Homo sapiens: one gene and its partner. The protein of the gene in region 2 interacts with the protein of the main gene of each other region in a pairwise test. Each region holds a gene or a part of one and is shown on either strand. Other genes may lie near its edges.

Evidence for each region.
Region 1: the proteins of IDI1 (region 2) and ZNF655 interact in binary tests that used the Homo sapiens proteins (3 or more experiments, as listed by UniProt).

The regions. Positions count from the first base shown.
Region 1 is NC_000007.14:99,561,619-99,565,439, reverse strand, and holds part of ZNF655 (zinc finger protein 655), read right to left. Parts: intron 3,553-3,821; coding exon of another isoform or gene 3,467-3,552; exon of another isoform or gene 3,145-3,466; coding exon of another isoform or gene 2,946-3,144; intron 1,578-2,945; coding exon of another isoform or gene 1,381-1,577; exon of another isoform or gene 735-1,380; intron 1-734. UniProt on the Homo sapiens protein: Probable transcription factor.
Region 2 is NC_000010.11:1,042,591-1,046,411, forward strand, and holds part of IDI1 (isopentenyl-diphosphate Delta-isomerase 1), read right to left. Parts: intron 1,612-3,821; exon of another isoform or gene 1,582-1,611; coding exon 1,409-1,581; exon of another isoform or gene 920-1,408; coding exon of another isoform or gene 898-919; intron 804-897; coding exon 711-803; intron 173-710; coding exon 42-172; intron 1-41. UniProt on the Homo sapiens protein: Catalyzes the 1,3-allylic rearrangement of the homoallylic substrate isopentenyl (IPP) to its highly electrophilic allylic isomer, dimethylallyl diphosphate (DMAPP).

The DNA of each region.
Region 1 (3,821 bases), on a different chromosome or scaffold from region 2:
CCCAGCACTTTGGGAGGCCGAGACAGGCGGATCACGAGGTCAGGAGATCGAGACCATCCTGGCTAAGATGGCAAAACCCCATCTCTACTAAAAATACGAAAAGATTAGCCAGGCATGGTGGCGAGCATCTGTAGTCCCAGCTACTTGGGAGGCTGAGGCAGGAGAATGGCATGAAGCCGGGAGGTGGAGCTTGCGGTGAGCAGAGATGGTGCCACTGCACTCCAGCCTGGGCAACAGAGCAAGACTCCGTCTCAAAAAAAAAAAAAGTCTTACAACCCTAAAAAGTTAAATTAATAAATGTATAAACTTAACCCAGTTATGCTGGAGGTTGCAATTTTTGTTAAAAATCAGACCTTGGCGATGACCTTGAGCAGCGGGACATAAATAATTCCCGCAAGCTTAGTGTTCCAATAATGGAACACTAGGCATAAATGGGTTAATTTTCAGATGAAGTCTGCTGAACCCAAAAATATGAAAATGATTTCCCAAGGATTGTAAAAATAACTGCTAAGGAGATGCTGCTAACTTGATCACAAAAGCAAGATGAGTAGAAGGCTTTCTTGCACTGTGCGTGTCTCTTGTATGTGTAAAAGTGTGTATGCATGTCGACTGCATGTCGAGTGTGCAGTGCAGAGATAAGAGAGGAAATGGGATAAAGTTCAGTCTATAGCATACTATGCTATTAGACTGCATTAAACTGCTACAAAGTTTCTTTACTCCAAAAAGTAGACAGGTTAACTGTTGGAAACTCTGTAATTATTAGATAAAATTAACAGTACTTTACAATTATATGTATGTCACTTTACAGTTTACAAAGTTATTAAGTAGATATTCAATTTGATGCCCTGAAATAAATTTAACTTCTTTGCCCTCCCTTCTCCCCTCCATCAAGGACAGAGTAAGGAACACTTAATCAGGAAAGGCAATATAATTGCATCAATCTGTACAGAACCACAAAGAATAAAGGGTAGGAAGGTAGGACCTTGAAGAGGGCCACAGGGACTTCAAGGAAGGAGGAAACCAGAATGTTAAACATGAGGGAAGCCCAGGGTTCACAGGAGAGTTAGGCACCATACGGGGCAGGTTGTGTTCGCCACATAAAAGGAGGGGCACACAGCATAAGTTTCACATTCTAAAATAATATGAAAAGACCATAACTGAAGAGCTGAATTTGGAATTTCTGGTTTTTCACAATACAAGTAGATGATGACCACCAACCATGGTTTCTGAATGAACTGGGTTCAAAACATATCTGGTTGCAACAGAGGGCTTCCTTGGACCCTAACATTTGAAATTAAACAGAGGTAATTTGAGGAGCTGCGATTTTACACAGTGGTGGCATCCTGGGGAGCTTCTATTCCATCAGTCAATTTTAATATCTCACAATCGTGGAAAAGGAGTTTCCGAGCAGGGACGAGCAATATCGATGGGAAGCCGATACTTGGGCCATCTCTTGGAGATTCCTGCTGTAAGGACGGCAAGTGTTTCTCCAGAGAAAGCACTTGCCTGGGTATGACTCAGGGCCGGGCAGGAATTCACACTATGAATCCGGGTGGTGGGAAGGCGGAGAAGTATGCCTACAAAGATTAAAGAGCCAGGAATGGAAAACACACTAAAAACCGTCCCAGTGGGCAGCCTGCCTCCCCACAAATAAGAAGACCTTGAATCCTGAGCATAATCAGGGAGACAAAGCAATGCCCTGGATGCCACCAGCATAGACAAAGCCAACGGAAAAAAAAAAAAGAAAAGAAAATGCATGATTCAGTATTTACACACACAAAAAGAAGAGTGCAGAAGCAAGCAAGAAACTAAAGAAAAAGGAGGCTGGGTGCGGTGGCTCATGCCTGTAATTCCAGCACTTTGGGAGGCCAAGGAAGGTGGATCACTTGAGGTCAAGAGTTCGAGATCAGCCTGACCAGCATGGTGAAACCCCGTCTCTACTAAAAATACAAAATTAGGCGGGCGTGGTGGCCCATGCCTGTAATCCCAGCTACTTGGGAGGCTGAGGCAGGAGAATCGCTTGAACCTGGAAGGCAGAGGTTGTAGTGAGTTGAGATTGCACCACTGCACTCCAGCCTGGGCAACAAGAGTGAAACTCCATCTAAAAATAAAATAAAATAAAAAATATAATATAATATAAAAAATAAACTAAAGAAAAAGGAACAATGCTCACACCAAGGGAGCTGCCGACAAACCCCACTGATGCTTCCCAGCAGCACTACAGCTTGGCTAATCCCAGCTTCCCACTGTACCTTTCAAAATGACAAGGGAGAGACATGAGTTAAGCATTGACCCCACCTCAGCATGGGGTAAACATCTGAGATTTCTGCTGCCCTGGGTGTGGTTACGTGGGATTACCATTCTGGGTGACTCACTGAAATGTACTCACAGTGAGTCATGCCTTCAAATGACATCTCAAGTTCTGCCTGCTTGGAGATACATCTGGGGATCTTAAGGGGTGAGGGACTACTCAACAAGAAGGAATTTAGCCTGTCTTTTTAAATAAACGGCATTTCTTTTTCCTAGAAAAATGGGAAATTCTTCAATTCTCTAATACAGGGACACTGAGATAACAAAGAGGAAAGTGTCTGGTTGGAGGTTGGGAGGCCACCCTGGGGTCTCTCCTACAAAAATGGAAAAGAAAAGAACGGTGAGAAATCAAGCAAAGCACAAGAAAGTTTCCCTTTGCTAAAAGGGAAAAGATGCCCCACAATGGCCATAAACATGAACTGGGGATAAGGAGGAGAATGTCTCTTCTTGGCACCCCCAAACAAACGTTAATTACCCCTCCCGGAGAAGACGATGTGAAAGATAAGGATTCAGAGGTTCTAAGTCCTGGAATCTAAGCCACACTCTACAGACCTTCTCAGAGACCTTATACTTAGGAAGAAACAAGAAAGTAAAGAAATTCAAATAGATAAACCGAATAATAAGGAAGTCCTTACCCAGTGAGACCACGTTCCCATAATTCTCTAACATCACTTCTCTGTAGAGGTCCCTCTGAACAGGGTCCAGGTATCCCCATTCCTCTCGAGTAAGGTGCACAGCCACATCCTCGAATGTCACAAACTCCTGAAATAACACATCCTGGCTGCTCTGAGGAATGAGAACACTGTAGCACCATGGCCAGAGAATGAAGATCATAGAGAGGGTATCCACTGTGTACTTACGTTGAGGAGGAGGGAGAACAGATTAGAACCTACGGAATAAAGCCCATAACCCTTAAACATCTAATAAGCACCCATCACACAACCATGGACAAAGAGAAAACAGAGTTTGCTCATGGCACTGGGGAGATGGGAAGTTGGTTTATGTGAAGTCCAGGTCTCCGAAGAGGATCAATTCCCAAACTGGAGTCTGCTATTGAAAAAAATTCCAGGCAAGGTCTACAGATGGGATGAGAGAGAGGCCACACTCCATCAGTAGCAATAGTCCCTGAGGAAAAGCAGAGGGTTCCTCAGCTCACCTGGTACCTGGCTGTCAAGAGCGCAGCTGCCTGGTCTCCTGGGCTTCCCTCACGGGGAAGAGCAGGCACCTGAGGAACAGGTGGAGCTGAGGGAGGAGAAAGGAGTGAAGAGTGAGAGCAGCCCTTTCCCAGGGCTCCCTTTCAGAGGAGGCCTCTCCAGCCCAAGGGGTGTCAGCAGGACCCTCCTCAATACTCTAGTAAAACCAATGAACATTTTTCAGGTATTGGGTGTGTCTACTCTGCTTCGTCTCAGTACTTGCATGCCTTATGCGTGTTTTGACCTGTGATACAGGATTTTCTTAGGAAAGCTTGTATTTCACTTTATCTTCATCACATGACAGTCCTCTTACAGAAG
Region 2 (3,821 bases):
TTAGGTTTCAGCTTGTATGGTTGTGTAGGAGAGCTGGTTACCTCTTCCAAGGGAATTCCTAGCTCAGCTTTCAGCCGTCTCTGTGCTGCTCGCCTCACTCCAAGGGCGTCACTTTCCTCAAGCTCGGCTGGATTGCTTAATGGATGACTACAACACGTATTCGTAAAACAACCTGGAAAATGGTAATACAGAGACAGATCAACTTTTCTTCAAAGTAGGTCTGAAAGATCAAGAAAAAGTTTTATAAGTAACTGAAAAATGAAATGATTTTTAAGGATTTTAAAATCAGTTATAATGGGCTATCAGTAATTATTTTAAGGATTTTAAAATTGGTTATAATGGGCTATCAGTAATTATTTTAAGGATTTTAAAATTGGTTATAATGGGCTATCAGTAATTATGTTGTGAAACAGACTACATTTGTAGGTAGGTTCCTTATTAATACTTCTTTAACCAAAAAAGATCAAAGTGTAGATAATACAGATTAAAGATAAATATGTAAATTATACATATTGCCCAATTGCTTACTAGTTCTTATTTTTTCTTGCTGTTGTATTAGGTTGCACTCATTGTGTAAACTCACTTTATGCAGAATATAAAATTATGCCATTCACAGGATTTCCCTTTGTGACCTTGGCTCCAAGAATTCAGAATGATAAAAAGTCAAATTAATGTACAAACACAATATTGTACATTAAAAGTGTACTAACCTGGAAAGGTAATCTTAGCATCTGATCTTTGCTGTAGCAGAAGCTTATTTTCGGTGTTGAATAAGAAGACACTAAAAGCTCGATGCAATAATCCTGAAAGCAAAAGAAATAACAATTATTTTAGCCTTAAGTACCAGTTATTTGCCAAATTCTCTCCCTGCAGTTCAGAATAACATTAGTAACTTGCTGCTGCTTTTGCTTTTTCCCATGGTTTATCCACATGCATAGTCTCTGCATGGCTATGGTGAGGAAGAGCTCTGCACTGGGCAAGGAAGTTGGCCGTCGAGTGAAGGAAATGGTGATGCTGGTGGCCCCTTTCCGGCAGTCAAGTTCCCTATCAAGGACATTCAGTTCTCGGAAAGTGGTGAAGGCACATGCTTCCCTGCATGGTGCCCGCCTCTCTCCACTCTCTAGAAATATTAGAGGCTAGGCTGCTGCTGTATGTCAGGGCTAGTCCCTCTTCTATGAATCCAGAATAACTCTGAAGAAGCCGAGTAACAGGCATGAAGTGAAGAGAAATCGCTGTAACAGGAAGACAGCAAAGCAGATGCTAATGACCACACTATTTAACGAACTGGAACCAACGAGAAAATACGGTATTACTGAAGACTGCACTTCCTTGAACAGAGTGCTCTTCTCAGCAAATCGGAAATGCCTACACAAATCGCTTTACAAGAAAGACTGTTTCAAAGCAGCACCTTTCTCAATGTTCTCGTTCAGGTGACAATTCTTCTTGGTCTCAGCTCCAATTTTATTGTCATTTTCATCAATAAGGATACACATCTCTGCCAGGAGTTGAACCTGTTGCTTGTCGAGGTGGTTAGTGTTTATTTCAGGCATCATTACAAAATGTCTGATCTGTTCTAGAACACTAATATTAAAGGAAAAGAGAAAGAAAGGCCATCATATATTTTTCTGAATGTCATATAAACACAGGTTAATAATGATGCTGCTTCCCCATCTGCAGTTGTACCACTCTGCATCCCCACAGGGACCCCAAGAACGCTGCCAGCCGGCTGCTCAGCACTATCTGGGTCATCATTTCTCCTACAGGTTTCACAGCTGGCCTTTTATCACAGTCATGCTCCTGAAGGCCAAGCTCAACGTTCCGCTCTAAATTCTTGACCTCTGAGATCCTCTGCAGCACTTGATACTCAATCCTTTTTCCAGTGTACTTTTCTTCTCTGGTTTTTGGCCCCAACCTAACTTTTCATCCTGCTTTTCTACACCAGCTTCTGTAATCTCTAGAATGTGCTCCCATTGCCATCCTGAATTGTTTTTCCCACTGCCTGTCTCTGCATAGTTGCTCAAGATTGCCACAGGCCAATCTTGGTTGAAATCCATTTTTTCAAGGCACAACTCGTGCCAGACATTCAATAACCTTTCTACCAATGTCACAGTAAGACTTAATCCAGTTTTTCTCAACCCAAGCTCCTGGGTTATCAGAAAAATTATTTGTATGAGTTTTGTCAATTTCCCCCAGGACAGTACTTAGCTGATATCATTCTAGATAAACAGGAGAAGACTTAATTCGTTATATTCAATAGATGCTTTAAGGCAGTGCTTGGCAAGTTTTTTCTGTGAAGGGCCAGAGAGTATGAACTCTGCCTCTGTAACACTAAAATAGTCACAGGCAATAGGTGAACTGGGCAGTATGTAAACTGAGTGTGGGTGCATGCCAATATTTATGGACACTGAATTACATTTAATTTTCATGTGTCACAAAATATTTTGATTCTTCTCCATCCGTTTAAATATGAGAAAAACACTCAGCTCACAGGACGTAACAACAGGCAGCAGGCCAGATTTGGCCTATAGGCCATAGTTGGCCCATTCCTACCTTAGTGCATCAAACATTAATTTTCTGAACCCCCATTTATCCCTCCCATGTGATTACAACGTAAAGCACTTATTAGGGTACTTTCAGTATTCTGACTCACACTTTTACATATCTGTATCCAGCAGCGTCTAAGCTTTCTAATCTTTGTATCCTTCAGGGCACCTTTACATAGTCTGACCTTGAAGTTTTTTATTCCCTTTTTTCTTCTCCTTTATTTCTGAATGAATAATAATTTTTGTTTTCTGATTTTTCTACCCAATATATTTTGAAGATCCCATGTGCTCTACTTTCTATGTGACTCTATTTCAAATACATAGATTTTACTGAAATACTTTTTTGTTTCTGAGAGGGAGTCTCGTTTTGTTGCCCAGGCTGGAATGCAATGGTGCAATCTCAGCTCACTACAACCCCCACCTCCTGGGTTCAAGTGATTCTCCTGCTTTGACCTCCCAAGTAGCTGGGACTACAGGCGTGCACCACCACGCCAGGCTAATTTTTGTATTTTTAGTAGAGACGAAGTCTTGCCATGCTGGCCATGCTGATCTCGAACTCCTAACCTCAGGAGATCTGCCTGCTTTGGCCTCCCAAAGTGTTGAGATTACAGGAGTGAGCCACCACACGGGGACCACTGAAATACTTTCAACAGAGTTCAAGCATACTGCAGAATGTACACAAAGTGTTTAAACAGCTACTTAATACAAAGTTCTAGACCCACATAGGGTCTGGGTGTGTGTGTGTGTGTGTGTGTGTGTGTGAATGCGTGTGTCAGGAGTCAGTGATGATGGAGATATTGATATCTAATACAAAAAATCTGAAATAAGGTTAATGATTAAAACAAATCAAGAGGGAAAATAATGTGAAAAGGAAGTCAACTTCAGAGTTAGCCTCAATTTTAGAAAGATTTCCAACTTCTATAGGCTAGTTTTATATACAGTCATCCTTTGGTATATATGGGAGTTAGTTCCAGGACCTCCCACAGCTACCAAAATTTGAGGATGCTGAAGTTTCAGATATAAAATGGCATAATATTTGCAGATCACCTGTGTATATCCACTGTGTACATACATGTGTCACATGATGGTGTTTCGGTACACTACAGACTGCATATACTACAGTGGTTCCATAAAATTATAACAGAACTGACATATTCCTATTGCTAATGATGTTGTAGCCATTGTAACATCGGAGCACAACACATCACCTTTTCTATGTTTAGATACACAAATACTTGCTGTTGTGTTACAACTGCCCACATTATTCAGCACAGTCAC